4 linked regions of the Homo sapiens genome follow. The protein of the gene in region 4 purifies or fractionates together with the protein of the main gene of each other region. This does not show direct contact. Each region holds a gene or a part of one and is shown on either strand. Other genes may lie near its edges.

The links.
Region 1: the proteins of DSC1 (region 4) and POC5 purify together in Homo sapiens (co-immunoprecipitation; one large-scale study listed by IntAct). This does not show direct contact.
Region 2: the proteins of DSC1 (region 4) and KSR2 purify together in Homo sapiens (co-immunoprecipitation; one large-scale study listed by IntAct). This does not show direct contact.
Region 3: the proteins of DSC1 (region 4) and TBC1D4 purify together in Homo sapiens (affinity purification with mass spectrometry; one large-scale study listed by BioGRID and IntAct). This does not show direct contact.

What each region holds. Positions count from the first base shown.
Region 1 is NC_000005.10:75,689,938-75,693,437, forward strand, and holds part of POC5 (centrosomal protein POC5), read right to left. Parts: intron 2,564-3,500; coding exon 2,459-2,563; intron 626-2,458; coding exon 446-625; intron 1-445. UniProt on the Homo sapiens protein: Essential for the assembly of the distal half of centrioles, required for centriole elongation. Acts as a negative regulator of centriole elongation.
Region 2 is NC_000012.12:117,458,491-117,461,990, forward strand, and holds part of KSR2 (kinase suppressor of Ras 2), read right to left. Parts: 3' UTR 1-3,500. UniProt on the Homo sapiens protein: Location-regulated scaffold connecting MEK to RAF. Has very low protein kinase activity and can phosphorylate MAP2K1 at several Ser and Thr residues with very low efficiency (in vitro).
Region 3 is NC_000013.11:75,286,670-75,290,169, forward strand, and holds part of TBC1D4 (TBC1 domain family member 4), read right to left. Parts: intron 2,442-3,500; coding exon 2,265-2,441; intron 357-2,264; coding exon 123-356; 3' UTR 1-122.
Region 4 is NC_000018.10:31,154,637-31,160,380, reverse strand, and holds part of DSC1 (desmocollin-1 isoform Dsc1a preproprotein), read left to right. Parts: intron 1-851; coding exon 852-936; intron 937-2,807; coding exon 2,808-3,010; intron 3,011-4,218; coding exon 4,219-4,338; intron 4,339-5,451; coding exon 5,452-5,607; intron 5,608-5,744. UniProt on the Homo sapiens protein: A component of desmosome cell-cell junctions which are required for positive regulation of cellular adhesion.

The sequences.
Region 1 (3,500 bases), on a different chromosome or scaffold from region 4:
GTGCAACAGTGTGATATAGCTCACTGCAACTTCTGCCTCCCAGGTTCAAAAGATTATCCTGCCTCAGCCTCCCGAGTAGCGGGTATTATAGGCATGTGCCACCATACCCAGCTAATTTTTTTAGTAGAGACGGGGTTTCACCATGTTGACCAGGCTGGTCTCAAACTCCTGACTCAGGTGATCTGCCCGCCTCGGCCTCCCAAAGTGCTGGGTCTACAGGAGTGAGGCACCGCGCCCAACTAATAATTTCAATTTCTATACAACTCCTTATATCAACCATGTAAGAATATACAATAAACATTAAATTAACACAAGAATAAACGTTTTCATTTTTTTGTCTGCATTCTTGATTAAAGACCAAAAGAAGAAGTCTATTAATTAATAGTGAGTCTATCTATCTTTTTATTGTATTAGAAGAAAGTGAAAACCAGAAAAAGATGCTTACCATAGCAACTTTGGCTTCATAATCATTGGAAATCTGGATACAAACTTCTTCAGCTCTTGCTTGACAAGCTCTTTCTACCACATCTTTCCACTGCTTTTGCACTACGGAACGCCAGACTTTCCAGACTTTCTTCAGTAAAGTTCTCTGGTAGTACTGGTCAGCTAGTTTACCTTCATAAACCTAAATAAAAGTAAAATATAACTTCAAAAACACAGTTGATTGATAAATATATTGGTAGTAATAATAAACATAACATGGTGGTAAGTGTACATATACACATTATTTAATTCTATGTAATCATATTATTCTCATCTTGCATATAGGAGAACAGGCTTAGAGAGGTTAAGCAAGCTACGTAGTTCACATAAGTAGATGAGTAAAGCCAGACTTGCCTGACTCCAGAGACTGAGCTCTTATCCATTACATCATTGCTTTATGCAACTAATCAAGTTAGAGAAAAAGAATACAACCAAATGAAAGAAAATGAGCAAATCACCACTTGCCATCTTAGTTATGAATTTAGCAGGACCAGGAGAATAACAGAGTGGCTAGAAGGCAGGAAATGGTGGTGGCTGTGGCTTCAGATGACACTGCTTTCTCTTCAGTTTGATGGCCACCACAAGCAAGATTTAATTTATAAACCCTGCCATCATATATGGTGCCAATCCAAATAAAAACTTATGCTATTTTTCTTTTATCAATGAATTTAAATTCTTTTGAAGAAGTAGTTCCAATTCTCAATTTCTTCAGTTTGAAAAACTATCCAAAAGTGACAGTAGCCTCAACTATTCTGGCTAACATTTAAAAATAAATATGTATTCTCATTATTTCACTTGACAAGTTTCAAAGTAGAGTATAAATATTCATTTTAACCAGCTTACTTAATGTGGATTTAATCTACTGGGATTAATTAAAAAAATGAAAAATCCAGAAAGTATTCTTAAAGGAGAAATCTTATTCCAGGATAAAGTAGGTTGAGCATCTCTAATCCAAAAATCTGAAACTTTTTGAGTGTCAGCATGACACCACAAGTGAAAAATTCCACACAGAAGTACTTAACACAAACTTTGTTTCATGCATAAAATTATTAAAAATATTGTATACAATTACCTTAGGCTATATGTATAAGGTGAAATATGAAACATAAATGAATTTTGTGCATAAGGTGTGATATGAAACATAATCTAAAATCCAAAATTCTCCTGGTGCCAAACATTTTGGATAAGGGATACTCAACCTGTACTAGCTTTTTCCTTAAATACTAATCTCTTGGAAACTAAATACACAGAGATTATTCCATAGCTCACATGAATATACATGGAAAGCATATATATATATATTCATCTCCTATATTCATGTGTCTCTAAACTATGTCTTGTTGTGGGATATACTCATACTTTTCCACTTTTGATACAACAATTTAGTATTCTCTTTCAGTTCACTATTTACTGATATACCAACTCAGCTCTTACTTAAAATAAAAGATGTTCAAGTTTAAATGATATACTACAAGCTAAGGATAACTTTTAAAAAGCTGTACAGGTATGGCTTTCTCTGACTCTCACTCTAAGGCAAGTCTACATAACAAACATTTATACTGTGATTTAATGTATAAATATAGTAAAGCCTCTTTATGAATAAGTTGTATTCAGGCATTTTAAAAGTAGAAACAATATAGGAAGCATTTGATATGTTAAACATAACTTCTTTCTCCAATAACCACATCTGAGGGGGTTCTATTACCAGGGCCTTTACAATTTAGGAACAATCCTTATTAACCTACTATGAAGCAGGAAATGATGTATCTATTGTAATATATATATATTATATGTCAATAAGATCTAAACTGTATTTTTTCCAAACTACATCAAAATCAAATTCCTTTGAAATAAGAGGAACATTAAATCACAAATTCATTTTGACTTATTAGAAAACAACTATAATAAGTGATCCTGAGCACTTCTGAATTCAGAAGTCTAACATCCATCAGCTGTCTTCTGCTTTGACACTTACATCCTGTCTGGCTCTGACATGGCCGATTCGCCAGTGGAAGAATGTTCTCATCAACTCTATCTTTTCCTTTTGCTTGCCTATGGCATGAGACAAGCTAGAAATCACCTGTAAACAGCAATTAACCCAATTATTGTGATATTAAAATAACAGCAATTGGTAAAGTGATTTTCTCATATATCAAAAAATGCTAGAGAGGATAGGTATGGATCACTACTATATTCATTCAGTTAACCTCATTATTATCTTTAAAAAGATGGTAAAACTTTCTCACATGAATATACTAGATATCAACTAATGAAAGGGAACAAAAGAAGAAGGAAGTCTTCATTATGTGTATATGGTAATCACCAATAAAAAGTTTATGTATATGCAAATTAGCTACTGACATTCAATTCAGGTAAAACAATTATACATTTGAAAGTTCTCCTATATACACCATGTCTTTATTCACTAGATTTGAGGGCAGGGGCCAGAATATTTAGATATTTAAATATCTTTCTGGTCCCTACTACTATCTTGGATATAGAAGTTCCTCAACGACTGTCCAATGATTTTCTGGATTAAACAAACCTATAAAAGCAAATAATAGTTATATATGTAACTATTAATATGTTATAGTTATATATATAACTATATATTATATATGTTATATATACCTATTAATAACATGTTATACATATAACTATTAATAACATATATAACATATGTCATACATAAAATGTTATATATATAAGTAAATATATATAATTAATGTTATACATATAACATATTAATAACATTATATATAACTAATGTTATTAATGTTATATGTTGATGTACTTCTTCAGTGATATTATTACTCTTGTTCTTAAAAAAAAATTCAGAAGGCTTTAAAATCCTAAGATAATATTCTCTCTTATAAAAGAACTGAATAACTGAAATAAATTTCTAAAAATAGTCACATTAGAAAGAGATTTTGTAAATTGGGCACATTTACCAAGAGATATTTATAACTGCTCTTTAAATAATTTCCAGAGAGGAAAAGGGCATACATTCTAAGCTA
Region 2 (3,500 bases), on a different chromosome or scaffold from region 4:
AGCATGTTGGCATAAACAAGTGCTGCCCGCTCAATGGAGGGAGGGAGCCTTTCTTCTGAGCTAATTTAAGCTAAATACATGGCAGCTATTTTTCATCTCTACAATTGTGCAACTTTCTCCTCAGTTTACAATACAGGGGAGATATTATCGGGCAGAAGTTGGATGGGGGATAAGTGAAGACGAGAAGGAAAAGAAGAGGCAGTGGACAAGAAGGTACTCTCAGCCACCGAGCTGGTGATTAGAGGTATTTCAAGAGCTCAGGAGTAGAGCTGGTGGTCCACTAGGACCTCAAGATCTTATCTGGGTGGAAACTTGATTTTGAGCCTTCCATTCAGGGAAGAAACCAAAGAGCAATTGGAGTCAGGCTCCTTTTCCTGCCCTTTATATGCAGCACCCCCTGACTTCCCAGAAGCCCAGACTGAACAGCAGAAATTTTACAAACCTCCTCAAGAAAGAAAAGCCCTTGCAGCTCTCCTGCACACCACCACGCACACTGTTATTCCTTAAGGCCCCCATATGCCGTGACTTCCAGCCCAGCTGTTACTAGACTGGGCATAGCATTCAGGCCTTGTGGTGAAGCCGTCCCAGAAGATAAATGATTTTTCTCCAAGCAGGCAGATTACCGAGTAGGATCATACACAGAGTCTTAGAGACAGAATCTTTCTTTCTGCATTTTCCAAGTTCCCTAACTGAGAAGAAACATCTGCAGAGCGCTGATAGACTGTCCACCAACTACAGCCCAAATGGCTTGGCTTCTGGAAGTTTCTGAGGCCTGAGTTCTAAACCTACCTCTGCCTCTTAGAAGGGACCTGACTTAGGGGAGTTTATTATAGCTTCCCTCTCTGGGCCTCAGATCCTGCTTCTGTGAAAGGAGAAGAGTGAGATAAGGGAGGGTCACTCATATCCATCTTAAGTGGTAACTCGAATGCCCTGAAGCTACATCTGTGATCAGTGGGAAGGCATGCTGTGATGGATTAGTGATGTCTGCCAAGAGTACAGCAGGGGACACTGGTGGTAGATCCATTACATATTTGTACTCCTTGGACCAGATCTTTATCCTTCTAGATCTTAGAGGTCCTTCTAGATCACCATCCCAATGACTTGGTTGAAGATGAAAACTCAGGTGAAAACTTAACCCTTCTGAGGGTGTTACATCTTATATACTTTTCACATTGGCCTCCAAGCCATGGTATGTTGGAGAAGCCACCAACACACAGCAGATTTGACCCCTCCATTGGAAGACACCATCAGCCAGATGTGGTGTTCTTGTTCATGGAACCACTGTCCACATGGATGGAATCGGGCTCTAAGCTACCTTTCTCATCTCCTAGCAGTGTCTATGAATGCTAGTGGTCAGCTCTTTTCTGTGGGCCAGTACATTGACATTGCCTCCTTCAGTACCAGGTAAGGTATCAAGTCTCATTCACAGAGGTTGACCTTGTTGGAGATTCAGAAACAAGCCTGGGAAAGCTTGGGAAGAACAGCCTCCTATCAGGCATTTAGAGATTCAACCACACAATAGTGTCTTAAAAGTTCTGATAAGTCCTGCAATCAAGAAATTAGTTTCATTTTACCTAAGCATTTCCAATGCATGCTTGTCCCAGGACCCTTTCAATAATGCAAATCCGGCGAGTTTTCCATGGAATGAAAGGTCTATGGGACATGCTTGGGAAACAAGGTCTTATTTAGATCAGGCACATTCTAGACAGAGTCCATCTCCTCCAGCTCAGTCCTCAGTGGAAGGAGGACAGCCATTCTCAACCCCATGAGATGAATCCTTCATATTCTTGGTGTTAGGAAATGGGAGCTGCATGATCCCAATGAGTGGGAAGGAAGGGCCCTTTCCCACCCCTGAGAGGGAAGAGCACTCACTGATGTACGCCTCTCAGGAACACGGGACCACAGTGCAACATCCAGCAGGAGAGACGGAGGGGATAGGAAGCCTGGAGCAGGGATACTGGAGGGACCCAGGAGGGACTCTGCCAACCCAGATGTACATTTCCTGGAAATCCGGGCTGCTGCTGGCAGCCTGTCAGTTTGAGAACATAAGTTCAAGCTTCCGTGCAAACTCCCAGTATGGTCCCTGCCAGCCCCTGCACCCTCCCTTCCACAACTTCCTGCTTTTCCTCTCTCTCTTTCCTGGTTCCAAGTTGCCAATAAGTCTCAGAGGCTGGGATTGTAACATCCCCATGAGCAGCTGGACATGAACCCCTTGACCTGGAGGTGGGTTCCTGGGAATGGATGAGCCCAAAGACTCGTTTTTAAAATGCTGGGTCTGCAATTTGGAGGCTGGTTTCTGTCCCTGTACCACAGTTGCCCCATTGGAACGAGAATAAGACTACTGATCTCCCCAAACCATCATAGGAATTCCAGCCTGGCACGTAGTAAGTGCTCTGTGAATGAGGGCTGTTCAGGGTGGATTGTTACTCTGCCTCCTAGACATCCTGGGCCACCTGACTCAATGGGTCGCTTCATACGTCACAGATATTAAACCTGGCAAACTGGCTCAGCACAATGGCTTAGCCCTGTAATCCCAGTGCTTTGGGAGGCTGAAGCAGGGGGATTGCTTGAGACCAGGAGTTCAAGACCAGCGCGGGCAACATAGCAAGACCCTGTCTGTACAACAAATAAAAAATTAGCCAGGCATGATGGTGTGCACCTGTAGTACCAGCAACTTGAGAGGCTAAGGTGGGAGGATTGCTTGTGGCCAGGAGTTCGAGGCTGCAGTGAGCTATGATCACGCTGTACTCCAGCCTGGGTGACAGAGCAAGACTCTAACTCTAAACCACAACAACAAACCTAACAAACAAACTCATTGGGGTTGATATGGCACCCACAACATGGTCTGGCAAAGGGGAATCCCAATACCATCCAGCCCTGCCAATGGTGCCCTTCTAACTCCCTGTGCCAGGGTCTTACTCTTACCCAGCAAACCTCTCTGTCTGCATTCTGTAAACATTTCTTGAGCACTTACTATGTGCCAGGCACTACTAAGACAAGTCCAGGAGGTCACTGGGACCGCAGATTTTCCATCAACCTCCTGCCCCACTACTGGTTTCAAAACTAAACTGGTAACAGAATGGGTATGGATTGCAGGGCCTCGAGAAGGGAGTCTGGGATTTGGGTTAATATCATAGTCAGGCACTGACCAGAGAGGACAGAGGTTCACTGCGGCTCCACATTCCAGGACCCAGACTGACATTTGCTGCCTGTCACTCCCCTTGGAGTTCAAAGTGATTCCCTTGCAGGTGTGTGCAGGTGAGGGTGAGGTGGTACGGGAGGAGGTGAGGCTGGGAGCCAGGGAGAGTGGCCACATGAGTCTGCCTAGGAACTTCCCCACATCACAGGCAAAGCCAAAAAAGGAAACAGCAAAATGTAGCTCATCAAAATCCACTCCTTTGTCAATGAACAAGAGTATAGATAAAATCAGATGCTGTGTCACCAACTGCTTTGGATAGGGTCATGAGGCACATTCAGGGGTCAAGTGACAGTCCGCTACA
Region 3 (3,500 bases), on a different chromosome or scaffold from region 4:
CTCAGCACCAGTATTAGGTGGTTCCATCAGCTTCAGGGTCCAGCCTTGGGCCAGCGACATGCAGGCTCTTCCTCTCTGTAGTATTCTAAGGAGCACTTTCTGCTGAGGCCGTGCCTCTTCAATTATGGCTTATTTCCTATCTTGGCTTTGTTGTTAGGGTTGCAGTTTAGGTCTCTCAGCAACAGGTCACAATTGACTAGAGCATCCGCGGGCAGCAGCTTCCGGAGTTGCTCCACTGTCTTTTGATAAGCCATTTTTTCTTGTTCCAGGGTCCGGATTAAAGACTTCATTTTGGTCTCTCTCGTCAAAAGATTTTCCAGGTTTGATTCCAAGGCCTGGATTTTAGTATGAGCTACCTGTTTGGGGGGGAAAAAATCCTCCAAATCAAATGATTCATTATAGTAGGAGACAGTCCTTACACATATTAACCAATTACTTCAAATTACTTAATAAAATATTATGTGAAGCAAATACTCTGAAAACCTACAGGAAACGATGATTTATTAGGTTTCACAAAGATGTAACTATGGAACTACCATGCTTCATCTCTTCTCACTGAACACACGAATAATTCAATACTAAATCACCCCCCTCACCAACAGTAGGAATCCTTATTCTACACCCACTGGTGTTCCCCTGAGTGAGTGGGATCTGGCCTGGCTGAAGGAGAAACAGGAGATTCCTGACACTATTGCAGTGCTAAAAGAGATTTTCCTTCTCTGACTGAAATACGGCGTTCTCTAAACATACACTTGGGCTTTCATCAGTATTTATAGATGTGAGGGGTGGCCAAGTAACTGATGATGACTACACTGAACTGTCAGTGAAAAAGTCTACAACAGTTCAGACGAATCATTATAAAACAGGTACAAACCCACCTTCCCTAATAAGGGGCAAATAATTAATCGCCATTGACCTATCCAACTAAAAATGGACAATATACTAACCATTTAGTTTTCTTTTTGAAAATAGAGTATGTTGCCCTTTTTTGAATAGAAAAAAAGATTTACATTTTCTATGAGCCAGAGCCAATGTAAGACAAAGCGAAGGAAGTTTAGTGTTCCCATTCTTGGGAAGCAACTACTTTAGAGATCCCTCATTTCTAACCTGTCTCTCTTGACTGGTCTTGACAGGGGACTCACCATATAGAAGCAGAGTTTTAGTGTTTTCCAGTTTGTAGCCAGGTGCAGTGTTGGGGAAATGGAGAGGAGGAGTAAGTGGAAACCGAGGAGCCATTAGACACTGAAACTCCCCTGAAGTCATCTCCCCGAAGACTTCAGAAGGGTCACCTGCTAGCCCCCATCCTGTGATCACTCTTAAGCCCCTCCCCTCAGGGCATGGCTACATAGCACACATCATACAAGTTGCAAATACCGAATATGACTTTATAATAAATTTCTTATTGCATGTATAAGTGTGCGCTTAGAGACAGATATATAGTATTTTATATTCTCAAATAATTGTGAACTCCCTGATGGCAGGAATGATGTATTAATATTACATGTAACATTTGCATGGGATTCAATTTACCTAGACATGTCTCCCTCTCTTCCAATTTCCATTTTAGTCTAGACAACTCTCATCATCCGCAACAGATTTTCACAAGTGACTTTTAGCAGGCCTCCTTACCTTCTCTCCCATCTCAATCTGTCCTCGTCAAGGTTCCCAGATTGATCTTTCTACAGCATGGCCCAAAAACTTTGAGAGATTTCCCTCTTGACAGGATTAAAGCCATGTTCTTTGGCTTGACACTGAAAGTCACTTACGATTCTGCCTCTATCATATTTACCCTACCTCTCCCCAACCTCTATCTTAAATTGACACTAGGCTAACTTTGCTGCTCTGCCATGTCCTTCTGATTGATGCCACCCTCCTACTCAGCCTGACTTAAAGACCCTCCTCACTCATTTCTTCCACCAACCCTCCAGATTCCAGCTCAAGCCCAGGTCCTTCACAACTTCATCAATTTCCTACATTCAATTCCTCCTCCCTTTAATTTAACCAAATATCTATAACATGCAACAGGTATTTAAGCAGATTCCACTTTGAACTGCCATTTAGCTATTTTGTGAGGGTGCATTTTTTTCCAAGTAATGTTTAATTTAACATGTCATTTGTAGCCCCAGAGCACTTGGACAGTCTGATACATGGGCTCTTGGTTAGCAATGGTTCATTCCACGCACATATCCCTTTCATTCCTGAGGTAGTTCTGTGCATGCAGGAGGCATTGAAGTACTTATTTGCTCAAATCTTTATTTCTTTACCTGTAATTTTTCTAGGAGGTCCATGTTTTGTCTTTTCAGTTGGCTATTGGCCCTCTCCAGCTTCTCCAAAGTTTCACTATCCTCACAGGAATATGAAGATTCCTGAAGCTCATCCTGTAGCACATGATATTCCACCTCATAGGCATGCAACTGCTTAGAAATATCCATCTCAAAAACCTGCCATGAAAGTATCATGGGTTAGGCTAGCCTTTGGTATGTATAACAAGATACAGCCTGTTTATCTTGGTATATTTCATGTATATTTCCAAATACTTATTAATGAAGAACATTAAAGCATAAAAAAGCAAAAAAAAAGTGTAACTGTCAATACAAGAATAAATTAGATATAGTTTACACTGTCAACATAAAAACAGATAGCTCTTTCTGTGAAAGAAGATTTTCTTTAAAAACAGAACAGATAGATTATTTCTATGCAATTGAAACATTCTCATGAAGCTAAGTCCCTAGAATAAATTAATGTCCAAGTGTATTTGGCAGCTAAGATATTCATAATCTAGTAACTGTCTCCCAAAATGTAGTATACTAGATAAACAACATTAGTTATTGAGTAATTATTATGTTAGAGATAATCTCTGCTGATTAGTAAGCAAAATTGCATAGGGTATTACTGTAATAAAGCAACCAAAAGCATTTCTAATTTATTTGCCAATGGAGCAGAAAGATCTTAATAAAATTTTGCATCCATTTGCTATTCCCTGTAAGCCTCTTAAGAGTCATTTACATATTGTACCACACAGAGAATCCTCAAAATTGCACACTGTGAGCACTGTCCAGGGCTGTAAGGTTTAATTAGGGCTGCTACTGCTCTCCCATGTCACCACTAAATAGGAAGGTCGTTTGCTTTGAAGCTAGAGGACAGTTACTCCAAACTTCCTAGGGGGAAGGAGAGACAACAGCTGCTATTCAAGCAATGGTGTCTATACTAACACTGAGAAGAGAAAAGAAACCACAAAAAACCTGACTTACTCTACTACTTACTAATAGAGATACTCAAACATTCGAATTTTAATAAGAGAATTTCTAGACTAACTGGTTATCCTCAAATAACCATCATCTTTTCCTTACTTAGTGGGTATGGATACAATGGATTATTATACAACCATTAAAAATGATAATATGGATTTATAGTTACTGGAAAAAATCTAATACTTTATATTTTTAATTATAAATCAGGTTCCACAATAGTATATATAGTATGATTTCATTTATGTACAA
Region 4 (5,744 bases):
TGTTTCTGGAAAACCTAGCTCTACTCTATCTTATATTTAAATAATAAAAAAGCAGTTATTTTGATAAAGAGGAACAAACAGAAAATGCCAAGAAAAAGAAGTAAAATATATTTTGAACCTATAGACATTTTTGAAATGATAGCTTTTCTTTTGTTTTTTTCAGATAGTGTCTATGTCTTTGAACTACCTAGGTTTTAAAAACAATAGCTGGGCCTTGAATTTAATTAAAAATCTTCACCCATCTGAAGGATACTCTCCATATTTTGACATATATTTCTTTTTAGATTAGTCATGTGATTTGAGATCATTTAGATTTTGGCGTTTTGGCCAAGTCAGTCACAAAATTGATTTGAGAACAATGATTTTTTGGGGGCATTATTTTTCTGTGAGGTTAAAAAAGCCCTTAACTATTTTCTAGACTTCATCAACTATAACTTCAAATAGTAAAATGATGATTAGAGAATTAGGGCATATATGTAATTATGCATTTCAAAGGTAAGTATTTTCTTCATGCTAAAAATCAGAATGGCATTTATGAATGGTCTTAGAGACGTATAACTTCTATATAAAGTCAATGGTTTGTGAAATATTTTCTTGCATTGACACAATATGATTTAGGTTCTAAGAACTACTATTCACTTAATTTTTTTCATTGACAAATAAATGACAGTGCTATTCCTAAAGCTATTCTCTTTGCTGGTTCCTTTTAAAGTGAGTATTAAAAATGTAAAGAATTAAATGATTAATTTGTTTCCAAAATTGACAATATTTTTATCAATAAGAAAAAGCTACAATGTGAAAATTTGTGATCAAATTTAATTCCTGATATTTTTTCTTTTTTTTTTTTTGAGGTTTTAACATTACTTTGCGATGCTTGTCAGAAAGTTTATCTTCGAGTTCCTTCTCATCTTCAGGCTGAAACACTTGTAGGCAAAGGTGAGAAACACTATTAACAGTTTCATAGCTGTAACTTGTCACATTTAGCTGCAGGCTGCTCTTGTAAAGTTTGGGATAAAAACCACATAGTAGGCCGGGCGCGGTGGCTCACGCCTGTAATCCCAGCACTTTGGGAGGCCGAGGCGGGTGGATCATGAGGTCAGGAGATCGAGACCATCCTGGCTAACAAGGTGAAACCCCGTCTCTACTAAAAATACAAAAAATTAGCCGGGCGCGGTGGCGGGCGCCTGTAGTCCCAGCTACTCGGGAGGCTGAGGCAGGAGAATGGCGTGAACCCAAGAGGCGGAGCTTGCAGTGAGCCGAGATTGCGCCACTGCAGTCCGCAGTCCGGCCTGGGCGACAGAGCAAGACTCTGTCTCAAAAAAAAAAAAAAAAACCACATAGTAGCTACTTGAAGTTAAAATCGGATGTACAATAAAAGACAGGCTACTTGTTTTTTGGTAGTGGTTAGAAATAATTAAAATACCAAAGTTAGTTGTATACTTCTCTTGCCAAAAAAATTAGCAAACATCAGAAGGCTCAATTATCTTGGATTACGTCAAACAAAGCAAGGCACCAAAACCAGGAGCATATTCTAATTTGTATAAACTAATCTGCTGCCAAAATTTCAAAGCCAAGATTCTTCAATTGATTAGACATGAAATGGATGTCTCAAAATCTAAATGCCCCCAATAAAATTTGTACTTGAGGTTGATTACAATGAACAAGTATCCACCAAGAATAAATGTGACATATTTCACAGAACAGCTTGTGAAAATCAAATACAGTTTTGGTGGGTCTTAGTACCATAGCCATCTCTGAAGTATAAGTTGGTTGTTCTGAGCCCAAACGTAAAATTTTTTTCATCAAGGTTTTTCACTGGCTTTGCATTCACATGTAAAAAATTACAAACAATACAGAAATGGTATCCTTTCCAAGCCAGATGTTGTTTTGCCCAGTGCTTTAAGGTTTGAAATTAATAAACAGTCCACACTCTAAAGACACATAGTAAATACACTAAATGTGTTAAATATGAATCTGTAAAGGAGGTAATTTGATAATAACCACAGCGCATCGGGTTTACTAAACCTTGAAAGATATTACAGAAAGATTATTTGCAATATTACTGGGAAATATTACTTAAGAATAGACTGGTTTTCTTCTTATTTATTTATTTAGAGACAAAGTCTTGCTCTGTTGCCCAGGCTGAAGTGCAGTGGTGCTATCTCTGCTCACTGCAACCTTCACCTCCCAGGTTCAAGCAATTCTCCTGACTAAGCCTCCTGAGTCGCTGGAATTACAGGTGCACGCCACCATGCTTGGCTAATTTTTGTATTTTTAGTAGAGATGGAGTTTCACCATATTGGCCAGGCTGATCTAGAACTCCCGACCTTGTGATCCTCCCACCTCGGCCTCCCAAACTGCTGGGATTACAGGTGTGAGCCACTTAGTTTTCTTATTTTTGGCAAGATAGTTTTAAGTATCAAACTACTGCAAAAAGTTCAAAACCTACTGACATCATACGGTTATACCACTTATGACATAAAAAATCAAGTTTGTATACACATATATAAATTTATACACACACAATAATTAAGAGTTCAAAGAAAAGAGAATAAAATCAGTGACACTAGGAAAATATTTTATTTCTCAAATTAATGTATGACGAAGGTAGTGGAAAATGTGACTCCATTAATATAATTATTTAATTTTCATGGCCCCCACGTTTTAGAATAGCAGGTGCTGAGCACATTCCAAATGTAACCTCCCTTTTTCTGCTTCTCATGCATTAACTCACGGCTGTCATTCCTGTAAAACTTGTTCCACTCCTGTTTCATCTGACAAACTGCTGTGATATTTCTTCCCTGCAGTGAATCTGGAGGAGTGTCTCAAGTCGGCCAGCCTAATCCGGTCCAGTGACCCTGCCTTCAGAATTCTAGAAGATGGCTCAATTTACACAACACATGACCTCATTTTGTCTTCTGAAAGGAAAAGTTTTTCCATTTTCCTTTCAGATGGTCAGAGACGGGAACAACAAGAGATAAAAGTTGTACTGTCAGCAAGAGAAAACAAGGTATAAGGCAAGGGCTTAAGCAGCCTAGCACAGTAATATGCTTACGGGAGTCCTTCGTGTTTCATGTGTTTTAACGTGTTTCATGTTAAAATCTATGCTATTGAATGACAAATTTGTCTTTTCCACTTACAATTAGTGTAAATAAAGACTAGACTTTTAAGGAGTGGCAGAGCCATTTACAAACTTTTATAAAGATGAATGACTCTGTAGACCAGGAGCAAAGTAAGAATATCAGAGTTTTCTAATAGTGATTTCAAGTTTGGGAATAAGAACAAACCAACCTGAGGAGCAAGGACAAGACAGGGGCGGGTCTAAAACTCAGCGAAATGTGATTCAGGCTGGAGATGTGGGCTCCACCCTGTGCGGCTCTCTTCCCACTGATTGCGGGTTTGAGTCTCTCTTTAAAGAGGAGAAGAGACTGTTTAAAGCTTACTCCCATCTTACTAGAATATTCTATAGGGCAGGCCCTCTCTTCAGAGAGTGGAGGTGTGGCCAATCCACAGAATTGATTTGAATGTTTAACTCTAGGCTCATTTTCTTGCACTGAGCGGTAGAGATCAGTTCAGAAAGCAGGGAGGAAAAAGTTGCTGGAATTCACATCTCATTTTCAGCAAATTCACCACAATGAATTTCGTCTTATAAAACCATTTCTTAATAAATGATTCTATTTAGGAGAGGATTTCCCAACTAAATTCTTTTTGATTGTATGAACTCCTCTTAATATGCTTAAGACTTTAAAAATGTTATTTTATATCCACATTGTAAAATCCCCACATTATATAAAATCAAGTATACTTGAGCAAATGCTGACCTGTGTCTACATAGATGTATAAATGATTGTATTGTGGAGTGAGGGTTTTAACAGATTTTGGTTGTGCCAGTCCTAGTGGAATAAAGTTGATCCTTAAATATTTATTAATGAATTATCTATTTTAGGGGGAGTTTATACTTTCTCAAAGTGGCATCTTTCCAAATGCCCTATACATTTCCTGGTGGTTAACTGAGTAAATAGAGAAATAGGTAGAACGGGGGAACATAATGTAGTCTGAGGTGTGTGTGTGTGTTTTATCAATAGAAATGCTTTGCTGACTAGCCATGATATTGTAATGTGTAACCCTTACATCTGCTTGTTGATGTATGTGTAAAATAATCACAGTTCCAAAAAATGATAAGCAATGCTACATTTCTTTGTTTCTTGTCAAATGTAGTCTCCTAAGAAGAGACATACCAAAGACACAGCCCTCAAGCGCAGCAAGAGACGATGGGCTCCTATTCCAGCTTCATTGATGGAGAACTCGTTGGGTCCATTTCCACAACACGTTCAGCAGGTGCATTTCACTTATTTGATTTTATATGTGTCCAAATTTTTTTTTGTTCTTAAACTTTTCATTTGAATTGCACAGCATATTGAATCAGAGGTTTAAACTAATGGTACAAATAATGATCATCTATTCACCAGAACTAGGGTCCCATAGAAGTGACCCAGTATATCTTATTACTTTCTTACAGATATCATATTTAGAAATTTAGAAACAAGTTTTATATTTGGAGTTTCTGGTGCTCTTAGGTCTATGTCTAAATTCACCCAAATACTATGCTAGACTTGTTAACACTAATGTACAGAAGGCACACCTACATGTTTTGCATAGTTCAATTCTTGCTTAAACTAACACTCATCTTTTATAAAAATGACCTGTATTTCTGCTTACCAAGTAAGATTGCCTCACTGCCACATAGCTGGATTGCAAACATAGAACAGTTTTGAAATTTTGGAGTATAGTGGCATCAGCTCAGCTCACCGCAACCTCTGCCTCCTGGGTTCAAGCGATTCTCCTGCCTCAACCTCCCGAGTTGCTGGGATTACGGACACCCACCACGAAGCCCAGCTAATTTTTGTATTTTTAGTAGAGGCAAGGTTTCGCCATGTTGACCAGTTTGGTCTTGAACTCCTGATCTCAGGTGATTCACCTGCCTAGGCCTCCCAAAGTGCTGGGATTACAGGTGTGAGCCACTGCGCCCGGCCAAAATTTTCTAATTCTTGAGGAATTAATTGTGGAAGAAAAGTTGCTTTACTTCTAGTTTTATTATCACATAATTTTCAATTCCAAAGAATTCAAAATCACGGAAACTGTTACTATTATTTATATGAAGATAAGAATAAATAGATAAAACTTGAAAAGTGTATTACTCTACATGTTTTATAGATATACAAATGACAAAAAAGTTGAGATCAAATAAGTGACAGAATTTGTGGCTTTGCACAATGCAAAATGCAAATAAAAATTCGGAAAACATGGCAGATAATGGGCACCTAAGCAGAAGAAAGAAAGAATAGGAGAGTAGGAAAGAGGGGTAGTGGTAAAAAAATAAACCATCACAAGAGGTTAGGTTGAAAATATTCATCATGACGTATTTGTTCTATTCCTAAATTATTACTGCAGATCCAATCTGATGCTGCACAGAATTACACCATCTTTTATTCCATAAGTGGGCCAGGCGTGGACAAAGAACCCTTCAATTTGTTTTACATAGAGAAAGACACTGGGGATATCTTTTGTACAAGGAGCATTGACCGTGAGAAATATGAACAGTTTGCGGTAGGATTATTGAAATATTTATTCATAATTATATCTTTATTACTGGCTTACTAATATTTTCAACTATGCTTGTTTACATATTATAAGAATCAATTATTTGATTTAATATTCAAGATATTAATATGCAATATAAACTT